2 linked regions of the Homo sapiens genome follow. The gene in region 2 interacts genetically with the main gene of each other region. Each region holds a gene or a part of one and is shown on either strand. Other genes may lie near its edges.

Region 1 (3,549 bases), on a different chromosome or scaffold from region 2:
CTTATTCTTCAAGACTAAGGATTAAAAGTCACTTTTCTGGCCAGGCATGGTCTCATTCATACATACATACATAAATACATAATCATAAAAGTCACTTTTTCTGTAAAGCCCTTCCAGACCCCTCCATGCTGAACTAATTACTGTTATTACTTTATCCCACTCCTATCTTAGCACTGTATAATTGTTGCCAAGACAGACTGTGAGCTTCTTGGGAGGTAGGGGGAAGTCTTACTCACCTTAGATCTCCAGGGCTTAACACAGAGGTATCCAATAAAGTTATGCTGAGTAAATGAATAAAATAGCTACCCATTGGCAAGACAGCCTTCTTTATAATATAAAAGTTATTTGGATGGACGGGTGCAGTGGCTTACGCTGTAATCCCAGCACTTTGGGAGGCTGAGGCGGGTGGATCGCTTGAGCCCAGGAGTTCGAAACCAGGCAGGGGAACATAGTGAAACCCCATCTCTATAAAAAATACAAAAATTAGACAGGTGCCTGTAGTCCCAGCTACTTGGGAGGCTAAGGCAGAAGAATTGCTTGAGCCTGGAGGCAGAGGTTGCAGTGAGCCAAGATTGTGCCATTGCACTCCAACCTGGGCGACAGGAGTGAAACCCTGTCTCAACAACAACAACAGCAACAACAACAAGTTATTTGGATGCTCAGGACTCTCTCTCAGAGCAGACAGATATTTAAAAGACAGAGGACTGGAGGAATGACCAGTTATTACCATTGTTTTGCAGTTTTATTACCATCTTGCATTGAAAGATTCTGGGCTTGGAGAATTTAAATTCCAAACTCCTTTGCAAAAGAAAAAATTGCAAAGTAGAGGGAAAGGAGTAGAAGCTAAGTTCATTTGTTCCTCTATGGAAATACAGACATCTTTGGCCTGGCTTTTTGGCCAGTTGGACTAGACACAATTGGAGGTCAGAAAACAAGTGTTAGGAAATGAGGTAGCACTGATTTTTTTTTGAACAATAACACAATAAGTCTTGATGACTTCTAGAAAGAATGAAATAAATGTGCTGGGAAGCCCTATAGGAATTTTATCAGGGGATCTTTGGTTCATTTCCAACTCTGCTACAAAGGGAAGAAATAAAGATCCTCCTCTGTATATCAACAAGACCCCACATTCCTGACTATAATGAGAACACACTTACTATTTATATTTACCAGCCTAATTTTGTTTCCTAGGGCCACTATGACTTAAAAAAAAACTATTTGGGGACTCTAATGAGTCATTGCTCAGAATGCTTAAAAAATTATGGCGAATGAACATATTGCTAGCTGTACCCCAAATTTAGACTATGTTTAAAAACAAAACAAAAAGAATAATTTTTCTTTCTAAATTCATTTTAAATCAATCTCACTTAAAAGCAAACTCAAAAATCCCCTTCTCCGTTGGTGCCATAGTCCAGTTCAATTCAGTTCAATTCAATCCAATTCAACAAATGTTTAATGAGCATCCATTATGAACTAGGTGTTGAACTAGGTGTACAAATGTACACCTTAGTTATGATTCCTACCTTAAGGGACTCTCAGAGACAGATACACAATCACAATCCAATATGAGTATAAACAGAGGCAGTGCCAGAAACTAACAGAGTGGATTAATGCTACTGCTTTTTTTAGTTTGTGCTGTCATCAAGGGTGTTTTCCTGACTCCATGTATAGAAGGAAGGTGGGTGGAAAAAAGCAGAACCCCAACCCTGATTTTAAAAAGTCAACCTTGAGAAGTCTTGAGTCACACACTGAAAAGCAAGCTTCTCCACTTACATCACTGGTAAGGGACTAGAGACCAATGTTTATAGGATTAAAAATATTAATTACTAAAATAATTCAGCTGAACAACTGTGTTTCTATTCCTAAACAAAGCTATCATACTGTAACAAAAACTATGTGTGTGTATGTGTATATAATTTAAGGATATGTCTTCCTCCTTTTTCACTATACTCCACAGGTAAAAATTACATGTGAATTTCTTATACCAAAGACACCAAGGGGAATCTAGAACCTGAATAGTGTTATAATAATTAAAAAAATAGAACTTGTGGGGAGCAGAAAAATAGAAAAAGACTTTCAGGAAAATAATGAGAAAAACCCCAAGATATTTGTCTTAATGGAGTAATAAGCTCCTAATTACAGCCAAACACTTACTTGGAGAAGTTAGGAGTATGGGAGTGGGTAAGGCAGAAGGATAAGATGAAATTATTAATAGCTTAAAACACTGAAAATGCTCCTCACCTCTCAACTTCCACGGCTTGCAGTTTTCAGAGCCACTGCTATGTTTCATACTTCTTTGCTTTTGCACCTGCTATTCAAAGGCTGTCCCATCCATCTCACACTTTGTTTGGTGGAACTATGCATCTTTAAAAACCCAACTCTCACATTATTACTCCTCTAGGAAGCTTTCCTCAACTGCATTGCTTTCCCCTTAGAGTTACGTACTCATTCTTCCATATCTTGTAAATATACTGTGTTGTAATTTATTTGTCTGTATGTCCATTTTCCATGCAAGCTTATGAAGCTTTTAGGGGCACAAGGATACATGAGTACATTCTCTTTGTAAAAGTTCTAAACATATACCTTGTCTTCCTTGACCCTCCTTATCCTCATCACTCCAGAAATAACATAATTTGATCAACAAATATTTACTGAGTGTCTACTATGTGCTAGGCACTGTTCTAGAAGCTGTGAATACAGCAATGAAGAAAGTAAAAAAAAACCCCTCTGCTCTCATGGAATTTATATTCCAATGGGAGAGAAGGAAAATAAAATTAATTAGTAGTTAATAATAATAATACAATAATAATGGTGTACACATATTACTATATGCAAAGTACTGCTCTAATGGACAGAAACCATTCCACTTTAAATACACACACACACACACACACACACACACACACACACACACACCAGAAGTGATGGAATTGGGATATAATCCCAGGCAATCTGGCTTCAGTTTGTCTTCTTAACTATAATGCTATACTGCCTCTTTGTAATATGTTAGATGAAGAAATACTATGGGAAAAGATAAAGCAGGTTTAAAAAAGGAGTATTGGAGATGGTAGTGGTGTGAGATTTTAAAACTAGTGACTGGGCTGGGTGCGGTGGCTCACGCCTGTAATCCCAGCACTTTGGGAGGCCAAGGCGGGAGGATCACTTGAGGTCACTTGAGGTCACGAGTTTCAGATCAGCTTGACCAACATGGTGAAACCCTGTCTCTACTAAAAATACAAAAATTAGCCAGGCGTGGTGGTGCATGCCTGTAATCTCAGCTACTTGGGAGGCTGAGGCACAAGAATCGTTTGAACCTGGGAGGCGGAGGTTACAGTGAGCTGAGATTGCACCACAGCACTCCAGGCTGGGCACCAAAGCAAGACTCCATCTCAAAACAACAACAACAACAACAACAAAAATAAAATAAAACTAGTGACTGGCTGCCCATGGTGGCTCACGCCTATAATCCCAGAACTCTGGTAGGCCGAAACAGGAGGATATTTTTAATCCTATTGCTTGAGTCCAGGAGTTCAAGACCAGCCTGGACAA
Region 2 (5,545 bases):
GATCTCACATCTTCTAATCTTAAAAATCTTCCTTAAAAGCAAAAGATTAATGTATACTTTTACGTAAAAGTTATAATGCAACTTACTTCTTTATGGTGATACACTGCAGAGTAGTCATCCAAAAGAATTAATTATTTGAAACTTAAACAGTGATAAAGCAAAGCGTTTTAAGAGACTAAACAGTAAATTACTATGTCTCCAAAAAAGATAATACAAGAAAAACATTTGGAAATTCAGACCAATTAGTCTTCTAAATTTCTTCACGTACCCAGCATTATATACAGTCAATAATTATGCTACCTGTGAGGAAGTGAACAAGATTCACTGGAGGTCAATCCGCAAAGTGACCACTGCAGTCTGAACGGTACTCCATTGCCTTCAAGGAATGTTAGTGAATAACACACATGTGCAAACTGACATAGCTGCCCTGACACAGAAGATCATACCTGACTATTTCCACTCTGGTGGCGCACTCAGACTGCTTTTCTTTCCACTGAGGCTCATCCCAGTCCAGTTCATAGAACACAACCACCAGGGCTGGCACCAGATTCAGATGCTTATTCATCCAGCCAGTCTTTAAGATCCCTTTAGGAATGTACCACTCATATGAAGTTCTCTGCAAACATTGGCAGAAATTGAAAAGTTACCTGACAGGAGCAGAAACCACCTGTTACTGAGTGCCAAGCACTTTATGTGCATTGATCTCATTCAATATACACACCTCCCATTTTTGATTAGGAAACTCAGGCTTACAGATTCAGTAAGAACTAGTAAGTGTTGAAGGTGGAATCTCAACCCTGGAGAAGCTATACTTCCCATTTAAAGAATGACTGAAGCCAAAGAGTTTCTATCAGCCCCATAACTGAATGCATAAAACGATGATGCATGTCTAATGATGTCAAGGGTCTCAAATACTTTGCTAAAGAAAAAAAAAAAAAAAAAAGTAGCCCATTTCCAGGTAAATTCTACTTATATTCTTCACCATTCCAGCTTCTGTTCTTGTAAAACTGCTCAAATAAAATATTATCTAAAATCCAATAGGCTTTGTTTATTTCAAAGACATATTGCTGTGATGCATTTCACCTCACTTGTAGATGAAGTACAAAGCAGAGAACAATTCTTAAACAGAAGCTTCACAGCAGCCACTTGAGTCTGGGCACTGAGTGCCACAGAGTGGGAAGAGGATGCTGTAGATTTGAGTGTTAGCCCTGAGGGATGCAGTTGAAACCTCACATTCCTTCCAAATCAGCTGTGCTGGCTCAGACTACTCCACTTCATGGTGATCCAATGTCTACCTCCAGCAAGGAAAGATGAGGTCAATAAGGAAGTCTGACACAAAATAACATGGGGACTCAGCCAAAAGCTGGGAATAGAGAAATGAAAAGCAGCTTGAATTCGAGCATTAAGAGAAAAGAGGGCTTGTGCTGGGCTCCCTGCCTTCTTGACACAAACATGACACTAAAGAAAAATAATCATGTAGGCCTGGCACGGTGGCTCACGCCTGTAATCCCAGCACTTTGGGAGGCCAAGGTGGGCAGATCACGAGGTCAGGAGATCGAGACCATCCTGGCTAACACGGTGAAACCCCGTCTCTACTAAAAATACAGAAAATTAGCTGGACGTGGTGGCGGGCGCCTGTAGTCCCAGCCACTCGGGAGGCTGAAGCAGGAGAATGGCACGAACCCAGGAGGCGGAGCTTGCAGTGAGCCGATATCGCGCCACAGCACTCCAGCCTCGGGGACAGAGCGAGACTCCGTCTCAAAAAAAAAAAAAAAAAAAAAGAAAGAAAAGAAAAATAATCGTGTGAGGGCCAGGGCTGGGATGCTATTACTTGCACAATTTCAGAGAGCTCAGTTTCCAGGGCTGAGTATATGAAATGTTGTCGTGTGGTTCTCAAACACACACAAAAATAATCAGCCGGTGACCAAGTCCTATATTCCCAGAAACCAAAGAGGAGGGCTGCAATCTACATTTTTAATAAATACCCCAGGTTATGATGACATACTTGGTCCAGAGACTACTATGTCAGAGACACTGCTCTAGGGCAAAAGAAAAAAAAAGGATAGGGGTCAGAACTAAAAGGGTTTTATCACCTAACTTTCAAACCAACCTCATAAGATTATGATAAATAACAAATCACTACACATAAACTGCTTAAAACAGTAAACTGTTTTACTGTTTTTTTACAACTATGTTAGCTATTAGTGATACTATCATCATGATAATAATTATTATCTAAGGTAAAGTCGTCTTTACTATGTCGTTCACCTTAAAAGTCAGTTTTGAACTTAATACCTTTCTTCATTCCGCAATGAATAAACTGTGTTAGTTTATGTAAAACTCCTCAAGAATAGGGAACCTGTCTCACTTAAATTCGTATCACTAGCTTGTTGCATGGTTCCAGGTACCTATCACAAAGCAAGTGCTCAAAAAATCTGTGAAATTGAGCCACATTGCACAGACCATGGGATTCAAAAACGACATTAGTAATGATGGTGGGGAATGCAAGACCTTCCTTTTAGAGGGGACTATGTTGGGTTTTTTCCTAAAAACAAAAAAGGGAAAACCTGGGCTCATAGGATAGAAAGCTTTATAAAGTAATTATTCCTCTGGAGTTTAAAAAAAAAGAACTATTATTAAATATACATGCAGTGTATTACATGAAAATGCCTAAGGCTTTCTTTATGCACCACTGTGACCACTGTCTTGATAAACTCCACACACACAACAGAACAAAAAAGACACACACACACACATAGAGAGAGAGAAGGAAAGAACACATGCCATCACAATGCCATTACCTTGGGTCTACATTTGGGATACTCATGGTCACCTGGGAGCACCTTGAAAGAAATTGGTACTCGATCAGCTCTCCGATTTGCACAGAAGGCGTCCCAGACAGCTCGATGGACTGCATTATAAACTACATCCAGGCCCGTTAGAGTAACAAAGGCCATAGGCCGGCAACATAATTCCACAGGGAAGTCCCACTGTGTGGGGCTCATGTTTACGATGTCACAAAAAACCTGAAATACAAATGTTAATACATTCATAATTAATTTTTAAAAACTCATATTCATTTCTCCAGCCTGGGCAACAAGAGCAAAACTCTGTCTCAAAAAAAAAAAAAAAAAAACAACTCATATTCATTTCCAATATATGAATCTCTATTTAAAAATCATTACAAAAAAATAATCATTACAAGGCCAGGCATGGTGGCTCACGCATACAATCCCAACACTTTGGGAGGCCGAAGCAGGTGGATCACTGGAGGCCAGGAGTTAAAGACCAGCCTAGCCAACACAGTGAAACCTTGTCTCTACTAAAAATACAAAAAATTGGTTGGTCGTGGTGACTCACGCCTGTAATCCCAGCACTTTGGGAGGCCTAGGTGGGCAGATCACGAGGTCAGGAGATCGAGACCATCCTGGCTAACACGGTGAAACCCTGTCTCTACTAAATATCCAAAAAATTAGCCGGGCGTGGTGGTGGGCGCCTGTAGTCCCAGCTACTCAGGAGGCTGAGGCAGGAGAATGGCGTGAACCCGGGAGGTGGAGGTTGCAGTGAGCCAAGATGGCGCCACTGCACTCTAGCCTGGATGACAGAGGGAGACTCTGTCTCAAAAACAAAAAACAAAAAATTAGCTGGACATGGTGGCACACACCTGTAACCCCAACTACTTGGAGGCTGAGGCAGGAGAATCACTTGAACCCAGGAGGCGGAGGCTCCAGTGAGCCAAGATCACGGCACTCCACTCCAATCTGGGTGACAGAGTGAGACTCTGTCTCAAAAAAAATAAAATAAATAAAATAATCATTACAAAAAGGCAAAAGGCTTTGAGTATCTGCAAACTGTCAAACAAACAGAAGAGAGAAAAAGGGAAAACTTTAATTCCTGAATTAGATCTATTAAAATGTAATAACTATATGACATTTAAGAAAAAATCTTTCATGTTAAAAATGAAGTCAACTTTAAGACAAATCGGCATTTTCAGTAATGTCTCAAAATGCACACAGAACTTTGAAATTAGTAGACCAAGAAAGCAAGAAGGTGATAAAATTAAAATAGATCTACATGATCTATTTCAACTATAAAAGAAAAATATATTGAAAGAAAAATATAAAAGAAAAACAGTTGACTTACATATAATAAACTTCCCCTAATTTCTCTGTAATTGCTAATATTGAATTTCTGAATACCTAGGATATTATTAAAATAGCCTTTAATTTATGTAATTATCTAAATAGTAGCTATGTTGTCTCATTTCCCACAATATAAAATTTACTCTTTAAAGAAAAATCTGTAAGGGAAAAACTAACAATGAATGGAAACCTCTCGGAGGATGTTTCCACTGCGTCCTTTAGCTAAGAATCAGTCCATAATAAATCTAACGTATGCCCTGACTTTATAAGTATATAAAACTATGTTTATCCCGAACAAGACTGTCATTATATTTTTAATATAATCTTACTTGCAAAAGGATGTAACAACATGAGGTTCTTTTTTTTTTTTTTTTTTGAGACGGAGTATCACTCTGTCACCAGGCTGGAGTGCACTGGCCCAATATCAGCTCACTACAACCTCCACCTCCCGGGTTCAAGTGATTCCCCTGCCTCAGCCTCCCTAGTAGCTGGGACTACAGGCATGCACCACCACACCCAGCTAATTTTTTGTATTTTAGTGGACAGGGTTTCACCATGTTGGCCAGGATGGTCTTGATCTCGTGACCTCAGGCGATTGCCAGCCTTGGCCTCCCAAATGAGGTTCTTTTAAAAGATAATCTATACCAGCATATTACAGAGAATTCAGGTAAGGCACAAGTGGCTCATGCCTATAATCCCAGCACTTTTGGAGGACAAGGCCAGAGGATTGTTGAGGCCAGGAGTTCAAGACTGGCCTGGGAAACATAGTGAGATCCTGTCTCTAAAAGAAATAAAAAAGAAAATAGCCGGGCATGGTGGTGCTCACTTGTAGTCCCAGCCACTTGGGAGGCTGAGATGGGAGGATCACTTGAGTCTAGGTGTTTAAAGTTACAGTGAACTATGATTGTGCCACTGCACTCCAGCCTGGGTGACAGAGCAAGATTGTGCCACAAAAAAAAAAAAAAAAAAAAAAGTTATTCCAAACAAAATTATCACTACATTTTAAATATAATCTTATTTGAAAAAGAATGTGTCATGAGGCTCTTTTAAAAGGTAATCTGGCCGGGCGCGGTGGCTCACGCCTGTAATCCCAGCACTTTGGGAGGCCGAGGCGGGCGGATCACAAGGTCAGGAGATCGAGACCATCCTGGCTAACATGGTGAAACCCCGTCTCTACTAAAAACACAAAAAATTAGCCGAGTATGGTGGTGGGCGCCTGTAGTCCCAGCTACTCGGGAGGCTGAGGCAGGAGAATGGCGTGAACCCGGGAGGCGGAGCTTGCAGTGAGCGGAGATCGCGCCACTGCACTCCAGCCTGGGCGACAGAGCGAGGAGACTCCGTCTCAAAAAAAAAAAAAAAAAAAAAAAAAGGTAATCTACACCAGTATACCAGTATATTATGGA

Evidence for each region.
Region 1: changes in TRAPPC11 (region 2) and VPS45 together harm fitness less than expected from each alone (positive genetic interaction), as found in Homo sapiens cells (one large-scale study listed by BioGRID).

What each region holds. Positions count from the first base shown.
Region 1 is NC_000001.11:150,139,754-150,143,302, reverse strand, and holds part of VPS45 (vacuolar protein sorting-associated protein 45), read right to left. Parts: intron 466-3,549; coding exon of another isoform or gene 372-465; intron 1-371. UniProt on the Homo sapiens protein: May play a role in vesicle-mediated protein trafficking from the Golgi stack through the trans-Golgi network.
Region 2 is NC_000004.12:183,661,328-183,666,872, reverse strand, and holds part of TRAPPC11 (trafficking protein particle complex subunit 11), read right to left. Parts: intron 3,027-5,545; 5' UTR 3,006-3,026; coding exon 2,802-3,005; intron 617-2,801; coding exon 447-616; intron 1-446. UniProt on the Homo sapiens protein: Involved in endoplasmic reticulum to Golgi apparatus trafficking at a very early stage.